Linked DNA regions of Homo sapiens: region 2 is linked to region 1. The links come from fine-mapping of genetic effects on gene expression. Tissue or cell type: ileum. Region 1 holds a variant in brackets; the other region holds the start of a gene. All regions are shown on one strand. Distances are between the middles of the regions.

Region 1 (8,000 bases):
ATAGATGAAAACAAAGATAGATAGAAGGAATGGGAAGTTTTCTGGCTGTTTCTGTTTGCCTCTTTCCTCTCTCACTTCTTTGCTTTGGACTGAGGTCTCTCTATTGTAGAGGAACTTAGGGGCCATGGAAAAGAAGAGAAAAGGAGTTGCTGGGTAAAGCATAATTCGTGGCTCAAAGAGAAGGAACTGGGAAACCCAAGTTTTCCCCTAACTTGACCAGACCAATTGCCTACAATAGGATAGGAGACAGCAACCTGTATAGTGAAAAATGCTGCCCCAGAAAGAAAGATGGCCAAATAGTCTAGAGCTTCTCTCCTTTGGGAACCCAAGATCAGGTTTCCAGGCTGGGTGGGCATTTCTGCATCTTCATCCATGTGGTGTCTGAGGTGCATCATTGACTTCATTTTTACTTGTTCCTATTGCATATCTGTCTTTCTCTGAGCCTCATCTAATGTTATTGAGGATGTGGCCTATAAGGGCAATGCATACAATCATTGGTAGGCTCTACCTCGGCAGGTCCTGTTGTCTGTGTGGAGGATGTAGCCGAAGCGGCAGGAGCAGTAGTAGCCGCCAATGTAGTTGTGGCAGTAGTGGTCACAGGACAGCTCCTCGTCCTCCCTCTCCTTGCACTCGTCCACATCTGTAGGGCAGGTAAAGCCTCTCCATCAATACATGCATGATGATGAAGACTACAGCCAACATTTATAGAGCACTTGATATGGGCCACTCACTATGTTAGGAGATTCATGCGTTCTCTCATTTAATCCTCTCATACAGCCCAGAGGTAGCCATTATCTTCACTTTACAGACTAGGAAACTGGAACTCAGAGAGGTTAGGCAACTTACCCAAGGTCACAAAAAGCCAAGTTCAAACCCAGGTAACTTGACTTCTGGTGGGACCACTATCCTCTAACAGTTATAATAATAACTGTGTGTGGGACAACAACCTCAGGAAGAATTACACATTTGTTACTATGCATTCTGTTACTAGTCACATTCTATGGAGGATGAAATGGCGACATAGAGGCATTAACAAACTTAGAATCACACAGATAATAAGTGGCAGACCCAGGATTTAAATACAGACAAGCTGGGTACAGAGCTTGTGCTCTTAACTTCTACCTCATGCTACCTCTTTCTTTCTTTCTGCCCCTAATGTGGGTCAAGCCCTGTCCTAGGCATTTGAATGTACATTTCCCCAAAAGGGATAAACCAATGGCCAACAAGCACATGAAAAGATGTTCAACATTGCTAGTCATTAAGGGAATGCAGTTTAAACCACAATGAGGTACCACTACATACTCACCAGAGTGATTAAAATTTTTAAAAATTGACAACATCTAATGTTGGTTTAGATGTGGAGCAGCCAGAACTCTCATACATTGGTGGACAGATAAAAAATGTTACATTTGCTTTGGAAAAGGTCTGGCAATGTCTCATAAAGCTAAACGTATACCTATCCTATGACTCAGCAATTCTTCTCTTACATATTTACTCAATAGAATTGAAAACATATGTTTGCAAGAAGACTTGCACAAGAAGGTTCATAAAAACTTTGTTAGTGAGAGCTAAAAAATGGGGAGATTCCAAGTAGCCGTCAATAAGAGAATGAGTAAACATACTTTAGTATATTCATACAATGGAAAATTACTCTGCCAGGAAAAGGAGCAAATTACTGATGCATGCGACACATGAATTAACTTCAAAAACATTATGCTGAGTAAAAGAATCCTCACCCCCAAAATGTATTCTGTATGTTTTCATTTAAATGAAGTTTTAGAAGAGGCAAGAACTAATCTACAGCAGAAAAAAAATCAAAACAGTTGTTTCCTCTAAGGGAAGTGGGAGCAGAGATTGACTGGCAGGGACACAAAGGAACCCCCTGGGCTGGTGGTAAAGTTCAGTGTCTTGTTAGAGGTTTGGGTTACACACAAATACAGATTTTTCAAAATTCAACAAATGTATACATGAGATATGTATATTCCATTTTATGTCAATTTTACACAAAAAGAAAAAATGCTGTGAACAAATATGAAACTCTAGCAAAATAATATGCATGCTGAATTATTTAGGAAGAAGTATACTGATGTCTGCAATTTACGTTAAAACACTTTGTAAAAGATGAATTGCTGGATGGATAGAGGGTAGATAGATGGATAGATACGTGATAGAGCAAATGCATTAAGACATTAATGGTAAAATCTATGTGGTGCACACACAGATTTCCATCGTAAAGGAGAGGTCACAAGGCAGTTTTCATCTTCGGAGAGAGAGAGAGAGACCTGAGGATGAGTCACTTCTCCAACTTACCCACAGCCATGTAGTGGGCATCAAAGCCTGTGAAACGCTCCTCATTGGAGAAATCTGACCGGAAAGTGATGGACATGAAGGAGCCAGGGGAGAGGACCACCTCCTGGCCGGGAGTCTGCTCTGTGTCTGTGGTCTCCCTGCCACAGAAGGTTGCCAGCACCTGGTCCTCAGTTTCTACCTTTGAGGTCAAAGAGAAAGGGAACAAGATGAGCAGTTTCCCAGCTAGGCTTCTTTCCTTATCTTTAGAAAGAAAAAGGAAGGGGCCACCCAAGAGTAGGCTAGTCAGCCTGAGAAACCCAAAGAAAGGAGGTTAAGGATTCTTGAGAAAAGACGCATTACAAGTTAATTCAATGTGGACATCTGATCAGTTTCATTCGTCTTATTTAGTTCCATTAGAAGTAGCTTGATATTTGTTGTTGCTGTCAATAACCAAGCAGCTTATTTATTAAAAATAACTCAATATGAAAGTTTTAAAAAGTTAGATAACCTCGCAGACAGATTCTCTGCACAACAGGAACTTACCACATTTCCAAAGAATGGAAACTGTATACACAATATAAGTCATTCATTGAGTATCCAGTGTGTGCCTACTGCCGAGCAAAGCATGAGATGGAGGTGATGAGAGATAGACACAGTGCTGTGCACACAATAGCAGTGTTGAGATTGAGGAACACAGACACAGGCAGGTATTACACAGTGTGACAAATGCTTTCACACAAGCAGAAGCACTGCATATGCACTCAAAGCAGGCAAACAATCCACATTAGAATATAAGCTACAGGAGAGAAGGACTTTATTTTCTTTATAGATGTGTCTTCAGTGCATGGAACAGGACCTGGCACATAATAGTTATCCAATAAACATTTGTTTACAAGAACTGAAAGTACAAGCCCCATTCTGTGAACAGTGAGTAGCCAGGGAGTCTGTGGGGATTGTAGGAGGAGATGTACTTGGAAGGATACATGGAAAGAAAATTATGGTTGACCTTGAATGCCATTAATTCTGTGAGTAAGTGGAAGACACTGAAAACTTTTAAGCAGGAAAGTCATGTAATGAAAACTAATGTTTAATAGGCAGTCTTAATACAGAAACTATTTATTGGAATCACCCAAAAATAGTTTGAGTGTGTATCTCTGT[G/T]TGTACATGTTTGTGTTAAGACTTAGATGCAAAAAACATGCCTGTTTGCTAAAAGAATTCCCTTCTTTGGAAGAGCCAGAGGCCCTGTGCGAATTCAGAGATCCAAGCAGAGATCCTAAACTGGTGGCTTAAAGCTGATTTTATGTGAGACAGGAGTTTGGGAAGCTTCGTATGATAGCTAGTTGGTATATTTATTTGAGTATAAATTCTTGACGTATCTATTCGATTATCTTATACCTAATCCAATTCTTTTAAGTTGTATTTGTGTTTGCAACCTCTGGACCAAATTTTAGCCAAGATGCATGAAAAAAATCTCTTACCAAGAATGATTCCTGCTGCCTTTCAAAGTCATTAGAGAAAAGTTCTCAAAGGCGGCTATCTCTAGTAGCTTCTAATGAATTCATTGTTTTGTTCGTTAGCTTAGCATGTCAGAAATATCTTGACATTTGACACTCCTGTTTTGAAACTAATGGTTTATTTATTTAAAATAAGTGGGAGTTTCAAAGAAAAACAATTTGCCCTGGCAACAAAACGCAAGTACAATTAATCACTAACTTTGGGAATTGAAGTGTAAACAGAAGATGAGATCATGGCTTTGCTATTTATTCCTCTTCTCTGCAGATACCAGCCGAACTCACACCAGTCTTGTTACTATAGAATGTGCCTATCTGCACACAGCTGAAATGTCACTTCCTTGAACCTCCCAGCTGCTGTGTTATTTTATCTGACTCAGTTTTCCAGATAGCCAAAGCTTTACCTAACTATAACTAAAAATTTTCTTTTTGGTGTAACACTTAAAAAAAAAAAAGTACTTTAAAGAAGTACCCACTTTCTCAAGTGAAACATGCTAACCCTTTCTTGGTGATCCAGGGACATTGTTATGAATGTCAACCATTGTGATACTATATTAAAGTGATAATCTTGGGGATATTGAGTTGTGTAATGTCGCTTGACCTGGCGTTAAACATTGCCGGACTATAAAGCCTTGAACTTCTGAAGTCTTCTTTATGTCATGTTTTATTTCCTGTCTTTTTATCAGCCTATTCACTGTACTTTTCTGTCTGCTTATTTTTAATATGTTGTGAATTAGAAACCAGTTAACTGCTTTTGCTAGAACTTAATAAAAAAAAGCTAAATAGATTTAGAATGAGGGCCTGGGAAAGGGATTCTTCTGTGAGTAACTGCATGAACTAGAGTACACCATCTTGGTGACCTCTGCTTTGGAGTAATACGATATACAGGAACCTGGCAGTTGGAGGTCCTGGGTCCTGTTCCTGACACTGCCGTATTCTGCATTTTGGGCCATCTCCTTTCTAGCTCTCAGTTATCCACTTGTAAAAACAGGGGTTTGGACTAGCTGAGCTCTAGATTCCTTTCCAATTCCAGACATAGCAGTCATCATAGTCTAACACAGTTCTAACAAATCATCATAGTCATATATTATATAAACCAACCAGAAGATGGTAAGCAGGAGTTTTAACATATGCAGGATTACTGCTTGCGGATGAACTTGAATTTGTTAATAATGAATAGTCATGCCTTGGGCATTAATAGTTCCAGCTACACAGGCTTCTTTCTGGAACTTGGTATCCCCAGTGCCTCTTGGGTTCTGCAGTGACTGGGACATGAACATTTTCAAGTGAACACACTGGTCATTTGGATTAGGGAGATACTACTGAGGGTCTGTGATAAATGACCTCCCTCCTTGTAACGTCTGGGCTGAAGGACCTTTTCATAATGGCAGATAAATCAGATAAATGGTTATCACCTGCAGAGCCACAGTATTCCAGAGAACAGGAAGCATGCCCCAGCTGAGGCCCATGGGAAAATTTGAGCCATACATCCTTTTAGAAGCAGAGAAGAGAAGGCCAGTAGCCTGGGGCCCTGGGAATTCAGCCTGCAGCTCAGAATAGAGTCCTGGAATATCAGAGCTGGGCGGGACCTTTAAGAGCTATTTCTATCTGCCTCCTTCTATAGGAAACAGAGGTCAAGAGAGGGGAAGTGACTTGCTCAAGGCTGGAGAGATAACATGAACATTTTCTGATATCAGTTTTGCTTTGGGAACTATTCTGAGATGAGAGAAAAGAACCCACCAACCCAGAGAGTACATGACTAAAGACACAGACACTTGGCCAAACAATTTTCCTGGCTCAAAGGCCTCTTGAAACCTTATCTTGGGTGCATGGACTGTCTCTTAGAGAGGATGTGGCTCAGTGACAGCTCCAGTCATAACCTAAACAGAGGGGTCACTGGTCCCGGTTAATATTTGCATCCTGTGCTGTGGAATATGGAGTTCTATAAAGATCATTTACCTCTGAGTATAGGCAGATTGAGACCTAGCTTCTATTTGGACTGTCCCCTCTCAGAGGTCATCATATCAACATGATGGAGGGACCTTATCAAGTGAAGACAAAACATTCATAATAATGGAGACCCATGTGGCTGCGAATAATAAACTCTTCATTTTTCTATTTCTTCTTGTGGGCGACTATGTCCTTAGAGACTATTGTTATTTAGGACACCAACATGTGGCTGTATGTCCTCAATTTGTTTTCTTTCAACTCAATTCACCAAATATGTGTGTACTAAGTTCTGTCTACACTTTAATGTGAAGGGTGCCAAAAATTATTTATTTGTTATACGAGCTCAATAAGCAAGTTCCCTGCCTCTAGGAATGTGACACTTGGTAGAAGAATAAGATAAGTACTCAAAGGTATATGTGTTGGGGTATTCTCAGGGTATCGTAAATGCAATCAAAGATGGGCTGCCCTGGGGGTTTAAGGAATGGAAAAGATTGAATCCAGCTGAGGGAAATCAGAAAACATTTAGGAAGAAGAGAATAATCTTTGAGCTGGAGACTGAAACGTGAATAGAATGTAGGCAGGTAGAAATCATAGATGGAGGGTAGGGGGTGGGTAGAGTATGTAGGGAGAGGAAATAGTGAAGGCCTGGGGTATTCAAATCTCAGCTGCTCCTCCCCACTACCCATTACCTGGCGTCAGAAAGGGGCTCTGTTAAGGACAGAGAGCTGGGAAGGCACATCTGATAAGGAGAAGCCAAGAGGCTTTGGTTTCTATGAGTTTTCTACCTCAGCAGAAACAGCACAAACCTGCTAGGCAAAACTATGGCAGGGCAGCTGGGATTGGCCAAATTTCTGTGGAAGGACAGCTACTCTATGGAAGAACAGCTACTCTATGGGAAGACAGCTACTCTATGGAAGAACAGCTACTCTAGGGAAGGACAGCTACTCTCGCTATGTATGGCTGCTCTCTGCATGTCCATAAATTCATTACATCAGCTAAACAAATGCATTGACAGCTACCAACTGGCTCCTCAAAGCAATGTATAGAGAAAGCAGCCCAGGGGGGATTGCTCTCCTTTTATAGATGAGGAAATTGAAGCCCAGATAATTTGAACAAATTGGGCAAGGTGACTGGTGAATCTAGTGAGTGGTGAATGAATCTCATGATAAATGAATCTAGTGAGTGGTGGATCCAGGTCCACAATTGCAGCATCCTGATTCCCTAGCCAGTGCTCCTCAAGACATTAGGCAAATAAACAAAGGCTGTCTTATAACCCAAATGCCTCATGACTTTGTTTGTCAATGTTCCCGAGCTATCTCCTGGAGCCTTTCTGAAATCTGCTCAGGGCCCTTGAGGAGCATTGCAGACTTAATTTAGGCAGACATTTAGGGAGTATGCTGGATTACCCTGTTGCCAGTTTAGTTAATCTGGGAGCTACGTTCCCCAGACTTTCTTTCCCTGTATAGTTCTAGATTAGAGTTGGCCAAAAGAGGAATTTGTGCAAGTTTGAAAGGCAATAGTCATTACTCACTGAAGGCTGTTTTGTAATCACATACAGAGAAAGAAATGTGTAGATGTGTCCAACACATCCTCACTTGCTCTCACGTTCCTCTACTCTGCACCCGGCTCTTTATAACTACTGGCTCTGATGACCAACAGTGGCCCATGCCTATCATCAGATACTTTCAGGTGAAACCACAGAGGTGGTAGCTGCTTACAGCCAACAGCTTCTCAGAGACCCTTTTCCATGAGCCTCCCCTTCATTGTTGCACTTTGGCCCCTTAGGTAGAATTGACTTATCAGATTCCCTTGCAGATGCCAATATTTCCACCCATGCCAGGGCTTTAAGAGAACTGCTTGGTGACCTTTTCTCTAATCCTTTAAATCCCCATTTCCAACTTTTACTTGCCCAGCTCCTTCTATAATTACGAGTTCTAATACCCATAAATATTCATTATCTCACATTACTCATAAAGACTTTGCTTTCCTGATTGAAGTCTGACTGAAATAGTTATTGATACCAGAAGTAGAATGCTGCAGTAACAAAAAACTAGAATATGTGGCTTCAGTTTTAGGATTGGCTAGCAAGTAAATTCTAGAAAAACAGTGAAGAGACTGCTATAGGAGTCTAAAACAGACCACTTGAATAATGCAATGGTGAATCAATTGGCAAAACTTGTCTGCGGCAACTTAGAAGGTAGAAAAATGTATGTAATGGGCAAGGTGTGATGCCTCATACCTGTAATCTCA
Region 2 (8,000 bases), 28 kb after region 1:
TCCTTTCCATTTTAGGAGGTCATGGGAGGTCTTGTTTCCTCATCCATTAAGTAGTAATAATAACGACTTCCCACAGCACTGCTATCAGCGTAAAGGAGGATGGGGAAGTATTTTGTTAACTGTCCAGCCCTAGCCAAACATTAGTTATAATTATTCCATCCTGCCAGTTCCCAAAAAGCAAGAGTCAGGAATGAGCTTTGGCTCCTAAACCGGACTTCCCTATAATAGCGACACCCAAATTATGCAAGGCCGAAAGGTCAACTTCCTCCATGACTGCTTTTTCCAGACCACATCGAGGAGACACTGAGCCTCCTGAGGCCGGTTCTGTCAAGGACTGGCAGCAGACAGCCCTGTGTAGCCCAGAAGCCCGGTGCCATGTGTGGTAGGCAACTGGTCAGCGTGGGAGGAAGGCCCAGGAAGCTTTCCCTTCTACTTTGTTTGCATCTCAAAACGGTTTCAAACATATGAAACAAATATCTCCCTTCATGTAATGGGCTTGAGCATATGCTTGCCTGCTTGCGTTAGGGGCTGTAAATTGAAGAATATAAGTGGCAGCTTTCATTCCTCGTCACACTCTCTGAATGTTTTTGGCTTCTTGTATACGAGGCACCGGCTGTATAGTTCCCAACACCTGCTATCTATCCTCCGGCTAATCAAAAAGTTTAGCTACATTGCAGAAATGTCAAAAGTAATATATAGAGCTGAGATTTCAGAGGCCCCCCGTAGGAACAGGCTAGCAGGACTCTGTAAAAATGCCTGCATATATCTATGATTGCGGCATGAACGGCACTTGCTATCTTTTCCATACACTGTCCGTACACGCCCCTTGTTTCAACCCACTCCACACCAAGACTCCATTTTTGAATTGAAGAGTTGGAAGGGACTGCATGGATCCTTTACAGAGCACCCTAATTTGACAGACGATGAAAAGGATACCCCAAGAGATGTCACATCATGCTCAATACCATATGGTGAATTAACTTCAACAGAAGAAGGGAATAAAAAGAGCTCACAGAAGAAGCTGGGTCCATGCCCATATCATGCCCAGGCATCTGGCCAAAGCAATTAATCCTGTGAAAAATAATTGAAAAACCCATGGCTTTACGTAAAAAATTTAAAAATATTAATGCCAAAGTCCCTCCTCAGGAGGTTCTGGTTTAATTGCTCTGGGGTGAGGCCTGAGCACTGGCATGTTTCAAGGCAGCACAGATCATTCCGACGTACAGTCAGAATTATGAGCCGTCAGTTTAGAATAATACACTTGGCTGAAAGTCTAGTGGAATATAGTAGAAAAAATCCTGAACTTGGAGCCCGAAGACCCAAATTTGAATCTGGACCTTTTCATGATCATCAGTGTGGTTTGGGCAAGTTGCTTAACTGCTTTTATACCCACTACTTATCCATAAATCCTTACTTCATCCAGAATCTGAAACCCCCATGAGACAGTGCTCTTGAAAGTGCTCTGCAAACACTGAAATACTGTATCCATGTGAGACAAGACCTGCTGGAGACTTTTCTAGCAGAGCACCTTTCTCGTAGTTGCTTGGCTATTCAAAAATTGAATTCAATTCAACAAATAGGTATTGAATGGCTGGTAGGAAATAGACATTATGCTAGGTGCTGGCCATACAAAGATGAAGACATAGATCATGTAACTTAAGGAGTGCTGAGACTTGTAAGGGGAGGTGGACATTTAAACAAGGGGATACTACAAGGACAATAAGAGATGCAGCTTCAAGGGACAGAAACAGAACAAAGGACAAAGGAGGGGATGCTCACTCTGGAATATGGTGGTCAGGAGAGAGAAAGAGATATTTGTGCCAGCTTGAACAATCAGGTCTTCTAGGTGGAAAATAAAGAAGAAGGTTGCTCCAGGTTGAGGGATGAGCATATGCAAAGATACAGAATTGTTACTCAGCCAAGTAGTTTGATATGGGCTGGGGCACTGAATGGTAGGGTGGGATTCAGACCAGATCATTGACAGATAAATGAGATTATCATTCAATGTAGATTGACATAAATCACTTTTTTTTGGAGAAAGAAAAATGATGTTTAATGGCAGGTTTAAAATTACTATGGCTTTAAGAAGAACAGAATTATTGCACTCACTTTTTAAGGACCTGGTTATCTCTCTGAACCACAGGTAATCGGAGTTCAAAGAGTTAACATAGTCTGAAGCCTCTCATTGGTCTCAGGTCCAGAAAAGTTGCTAGGTTACTTTGCAGAAGAGAAACAAATAAAAACACTTTCCCAAGTGAAAAGAAAATTAATAGTAAAAGATGTGTTTAGGGACTTACACATCTGCAGAGCATTGTGTGTGTGTGTGTGTGTGTGTGTGTGTGTAACAGCATTAACACTTAACTAATAAAAATAACTAGGGTGGTTGGGTTTTCAGACTTGCAGGATAGAACTTGTATGAAAGGTCTGGTAAGGAGTGTCAAGTATAATGAGGAATAAGAAAGGTTAAAGAGTTTAAAACCAATTAGAATTTGAAGTTCTTGATTTCAGAACTCTAAAATCCTTTTTTTTTTTTTAAGTATGATATCTCTTTAAGAGCCATTTGGTGTACTTCATAGCCTGATTCATGCCACCAGCTGCCTCTGATTTCAATGAGAAATGCAGAAAATTTATAGGGAACTGTAAAATGGGGACAGATTTTTAGTTTTCTAAATTGAGGTTTAACTGGCAAACTTGTAAAGGTTGAAGAAACCACAGAGCCAAGCTATGGGAAGCTGGTTTCTTTTCTGGTCAGAAGGAATGAACACACAAACACATATCTAACTCACAAAGTGCTGGAAGAGAGAAAGCAATGCTCTTTCCAGAGGAGGAACACGGAAAAATCAGCCTTGTGGGTGAACAGGAGGAGAGTCACATTCGCCAGCAGGCAGCACCCTGTGCAGGCAGTGGGAGAAATCTGAGCTTCAGCAGCGTCCGGAGCAGGATTTGCACGAAGTCTCCCGTTTCAAGTTTTATGTCTCCTGGAGTCCTGGGGAAGGCACCCAGCCCACCCACAGCTCCCTTCTCAGAGCCCTAAGAATTGATGAGAAAGCCCCTCACTACCACATGCAGGACACGCAGGTGAGTCTGTCAGTGACAAGGTCAGACCTTCCCTGCTATTTGACACTGGTCCCCAAAAGGGAACCGTGCCCTCTCCTCCCCTGGCACGTACCTCATTTTCCTGCCTTGGGTGCTCCCGGCTGCCCGGCCTTGGTCCTCCCAGCTTGACTTGCCTGTGAGCTCGTGCCCGGTGTGGTGTCCGTGATGCCTTATCTTTGTTCTGAGGTCCCTGTGTGTCTCTGGAATTGGCTGGCATTCTCCATTCAGGTCACGCCTTCCCCTGCCTGCAACAGATCCCCTCTCCCCCTCTCTCCCTCTGGCTTTTCCTCTCTCCTCTCTCTCTCCTTTGACTTGCTCTTGCACTCCCAGGAACCTGACAACAAAATCTGTCTTCCTACCGAAAAGATCTGCTCCTTCCCTTCCCTCCTTTATCCTGTGTGGCTGACTTCAGCCCTTGAGAGAAAATAACTGAGGGGCTCAAGCAGGTATTTGTATCACTCTGTGTGTGTGTGTGTGTGTGTGTGTGTGTGTGTAGAGAGAGAGAGAGAGAGAGAGTGAAAGGGGACAAAGTCTAATTTCTCTTTAGTCTTTTTTGCCAGATGACTATAATTTTCTGCTTTTCTTCAGGACACCCATGAAAGAAAAGCAATTAAATAGAAACAACCAACTAAGAAGGCAATTCTAGCACCTACACTAGAAGAAAAAAAAAAGGTCTAAATCCCAGAGCGTCTGTCTGCAAATAACTACAGGTTTCCTTGTGAGCAGAGCCCCAAATAACTACAGGTTTTCTCGTGATCAGAGTCACACACAACGACAGGTTTTCCTGTGAACAGAGCCACGGGCCCGGAACTGGGGAAGCACCAAGTCCTGAAGTTGGCTGGTTGTTCCTCCCCATGAGCAATACCTGTGGCACTGTTTACTTGCTCGGAGTGTGTGCGGCTCTACTCCAGCCCAGAAAGGGCCCATCGCAGCAAGAAATCTCACCTCCCCAGGGGTGTAGAAAGACCTGGGCCTGTATATATGTCTATACCCATGGCTTCCGGAGAAATCAACACTAGATCTAAGATGAGCTGAATAATAAGAAAATTACCCCCTCCACAACAACAACAACCAACACTGAATAGGGAGAGGTGTATCTGGGTGTAAAAGTTAAGTTTGACTGTGCACCTTTTCTGTGTTAGACACAGTACTAGTCATTAACATCATCTCAAGTTACTTTTGCAAACTGGTGAAAGTGCTGCTGTTATACTCATTTTACAAGTGAGGACACTAAGGCTCAGAGAGAATATGCCACTTGCCAAGATCATCCAGTTATTTATGACTCCCCACTGCCACTAGCACTAGAAGCTAACAGCTATTGAGTGCTACGTGTCAGGCACTGCTCTAAGCACTTAATATATGAATTCTTTTCAGTCATCTTTATATGTTGTATACATGGCTGGCAATATTCTCATTTTTCAGAGGAAATTGCCCAGAGAGGTTAAGTAACTTTCCCAAGTTCACACAGCTAGAAAGTAATAGAGGCAGAATTTGAAGTGTTAGCCACTGTATTACACTGCTACTCATTAACATTTTATAATGCATATGGAATTTCAAATGCACACACACAGACGGCATTCATAGAGAAACTCAATCTGAGTCATTTTGAAAAGAAGATTAGACTCAGAGTTTAGCTGTAATCTTTCCTTTCTACCCAAGACAGCTGTGTACTTTGGGCACAATACTTAAGGTATCTGATTCTGTGTCTTCATTTGGAAAATGGGAGTTACTATGAGGCTTAAATAAGACTGTGCTTGTAGAAGTGTCCAGGGGAGTACCAGAGAGAGGGCTGCCAGCCACACTCACCAAAGCGGCAGACACATGCACTGTCTACCCTCAGATAACGTTCCTTTGGCACGTTCTGGGGAACAGTGGCTTGACTCTCACTGTACTTCTTACTCCATTTTCTCTCCAGTTTCTCTAATTTTCACACTTTTGAATGCCAGCCTTGCCAAGCTTGGCATTATCAAGAGGCTGTGGTTGATAAAGCAGGTACAAGTATATGAGATGGGAGGATATGTTTGAACTCAGGCACTGTTTTAGCAAAATGTGTTCTGTCTCAGTCAGCACAGGAAAAAAAGCTTTTAACATTCCCGTTAAGAAGACTCACAGGCTCCGCACACATTAAATAACTCTCACAAAACAACATTTTAATGATTTACGTGTAAATGAATCAGAAACACATGGACGACATTTCTCTTGGAATACACAAGGGTTTTAAAACTGAAGGAGAAAGAGCTTGGCAAAATGCACACTGTGCTGGGAAGAGGGCCCCTGCCCAGTAAAGACATTCCCTCAATTCATGCTGCCACGGAGTTTGCCCTCTCCTAATTTAGGGCATATACTGGGAACTGCAGTCATTTGTTCTGGGTACAGAGGGAAGAGCTTGGGCGAGAAAGCCATCAGCTTCTCCTTGGAAAGTGTCACAGAGCAATTAGGCCTCCTGGAATAATTTTCTAGCCATGTTTCTTCAAGGCTGCCAATGTTCAATGGAAAGCATTCGAGATGTGTTCTAAGCCAAAGTTCTGCCAATATATAGCAGATCTGATATGTGCGCTTCCCTGGGAGTTAGCCAAGGCTCAGAGGAAATCTGCATAAAAACAGGAACTACGTGGCCCAGGAATGATCTGCATGTGATTCAGGACAGTTTTCTACTTGGTTACACTACATATTGTCTGATGCTTTTGATGAATCTCCCTGAAGTGTCACTAAGAGATCATGGGTCATCAGGGGTGGGAGGAATGGAAGGGACATTAGGCTGGAAACAGAACTGGGCTCAGTGACTATAGGCCAGCTTGCATGTGACCTTGGGTAAGTCACTTACTTTCTCAGGGGTGGGGGTTGAGGGGTGGAGGGGTGGGGCATCAGTGTGTTCAATTATGAAATCAGGGGGTGGGACTCAGTTGAGATCATAGATATCAACATGTGGATATGAAGACTATGAAATGATGTCGTTGGGAGGGGGTTAGGTAGTTTGCTAGACCTAAAAGATTGTCAAGGAGTCCAAAATAGCTCTAATAATCTTGACATTGGCTTTTTCTGTGCTCATAATATTACTGATACTAAGAATTTAATCACAGATATTCAGAAAAAGTAATATTTAAAAAGGTTCAACTAGTTTTTTGAGTTTGGCAAAAGCGATTAAAAAATGCATACAAGGAACTGACATCATTTAGAATCATGAAAGCGTAGAATGACTGAGGTGGGCTCAGCACCCGCGCACTATAGTCCTGTAGTCCGGGAAAGGGATCAGAGAGCTGCCTACTAAGGGTAAATGCGGCAATATTCCTACCACTGGAAGAGGTTTTGGTTTACATGTTCTACCAAAGTATTTATTTTATGCAACTTTTGAGCTAGAGCTTCTGGAATTCAATGAATGGGTTAGAAAACGTAAAGAATTTGGGCAATGACTTTTTGTTGGTAAGGGCTGAAATCCAGGCTTCCTACAGAATATTTGAGAAACTGATAAATAGCTCCAAAGATGGCAGCTTAGAATGAAAATCTGGGTTCTTCAGCACATTGACTGACAGCATGCCGAAAGTCCTGGCTTCTGAGTCTATCAACAGAATAATGGGGAAAATATTTTTAAAAAATGACAATCTTTGAGCTTCATCCCAGGAGATTCAAACCCAATGAATCTGTGGGTAAGTCTCCTGAATCTGTAATTTGAAAATCTCCCCTGGCATGATTTTGCCACTTTTGGTACAAATAACATAATGATACATTTTATAATTGATGGCACCTTTGATTTGATAAGATGTCATTTGTATATGCCAGATACTTTTATATATATTATTGCATATAGTATTCACATCTTTTTTTACAAGTAAAGACATTGAGGTTCAGAGAAACTAAGCCTGCCCGTGCCTGTAAGTGAATGATGTATGTCTAGAGCCCAGGGCCCCCTGATCTCAAGTGCAAAGCTCTTCCCTGTCGTCTGCAAATTTCTCGTGCTTCTTGTGGACTCTGAACATTCATGTGCCATGCTGTCATGTGATTACAAGATTTTACAGAAGACAAAAAATAGCTTCTATTTAAAAAAATAAATGATTAGGCTCTGTTATGGGCTGAATTACATTCCCCTCAAATGCATATGTTGAATTTCTAACCCTCAGTACTTCAGAAGGTGACTGTGTTTGGAAAAAGGGCTTTTAATGAGGTGTTTAAGTTAAAATGGGATCCTTAGAATGGGCCCTAATCCAATACAATTGGTGTCTTTATAAGAGGACATTAAGACACAGACACACACAGAGGGAAGACCATGTGAAGACGTAGGGTGAAGATGGCCACCTGCAGGCCAAGGATAAAAGCCACAAAAGAAACCAAATCTGCCAACACCTCCATCTCGGACAGTTTTTGTTTATAGTCCCGAAAGACACAAGCCTGAAATCTATAATCCCAAATATGGAAATTCCAAAAAGTCAAAACCTCTAAAGTCTAAATCCCTAACATCTAAAATCCCCAAAATCAAAATCACAAGATAGTTGCATCATATTAGGTGGAACTCTTTACTTTGTCACTGTCTTTATGCAGAGGAAAATGGATTTCAATTGAATCCTCAAACCATAAAGACAGATTTGGAATTAGGTGTGATTGAGGTTTCTAAAGGTGAACTTCAAGGTATTACCAATAAAGTTTGTTTTTTTCCATTCTGTCCAATGTGTTTGGCAGAAACTTCAGATGAGTGGACTGGTCACGTGATACAGCAATGACAAAAACTTCAGTATTGGCATTCATTCCAGCTGATGGCATTCCAGGAGCTTTTAATGAATTAAAGCCACATTTGCCTGAAGAAGCCAGCGAAGTTACTAACTGGTTCAAAAACGATTATGTGCATGATGGGCAGTATTGTTGCAGTTCAATCACCAGTATTGCTTCCACCAGATTTGTGGTCTATATATGTG

The links. PIP is the estimated chance that this variant, and not a neighbour inherited with it, causes the effect.
Region 2: MASP1 starts here. The variant in region 1 is fine-mapped to the expression of MASP1 in ileum (GTEx, PIP above 0.99). The same link has a PIP of 0.9 or more in stomach.

Annotation. Positions count from the first base shown.
Region 1 is chr3:187,260,233-187,268,232 of GRCh38, forward strand. MASP1 (MBL associated serine protease 1) reads right to left here. Exons shown (of 11, transcript NM_139125.4): 3 at 2,311-2,488; 4 at 509-640. Among named protein-coding and RNA genes, the nearest start is that of MASP1, 28 kb to the right of the region's middle. The variant G/T (reference allele first, on the strand shown) is at 3,448.
Region 2 is chr3:187,288,459-187,296,458 of GRCh38, forward strand. MASP1 (MBL associated serine protease 1) reads right to left here and starts at 3,279. Exons shown (of 11, transcript NM_139125.4): 1 at 3,170-3,279. The coding sequence starts at 3,174. LOC101929130 (a long non-coding RNA gene) reads left to right here and starts at 2,814. Exons shown (of 2, transcript NR_135551.1): 1 at 2,814-3,078; 2 at 7,768-8,000. RefSeq lists an enhancer at 7,056-7,632.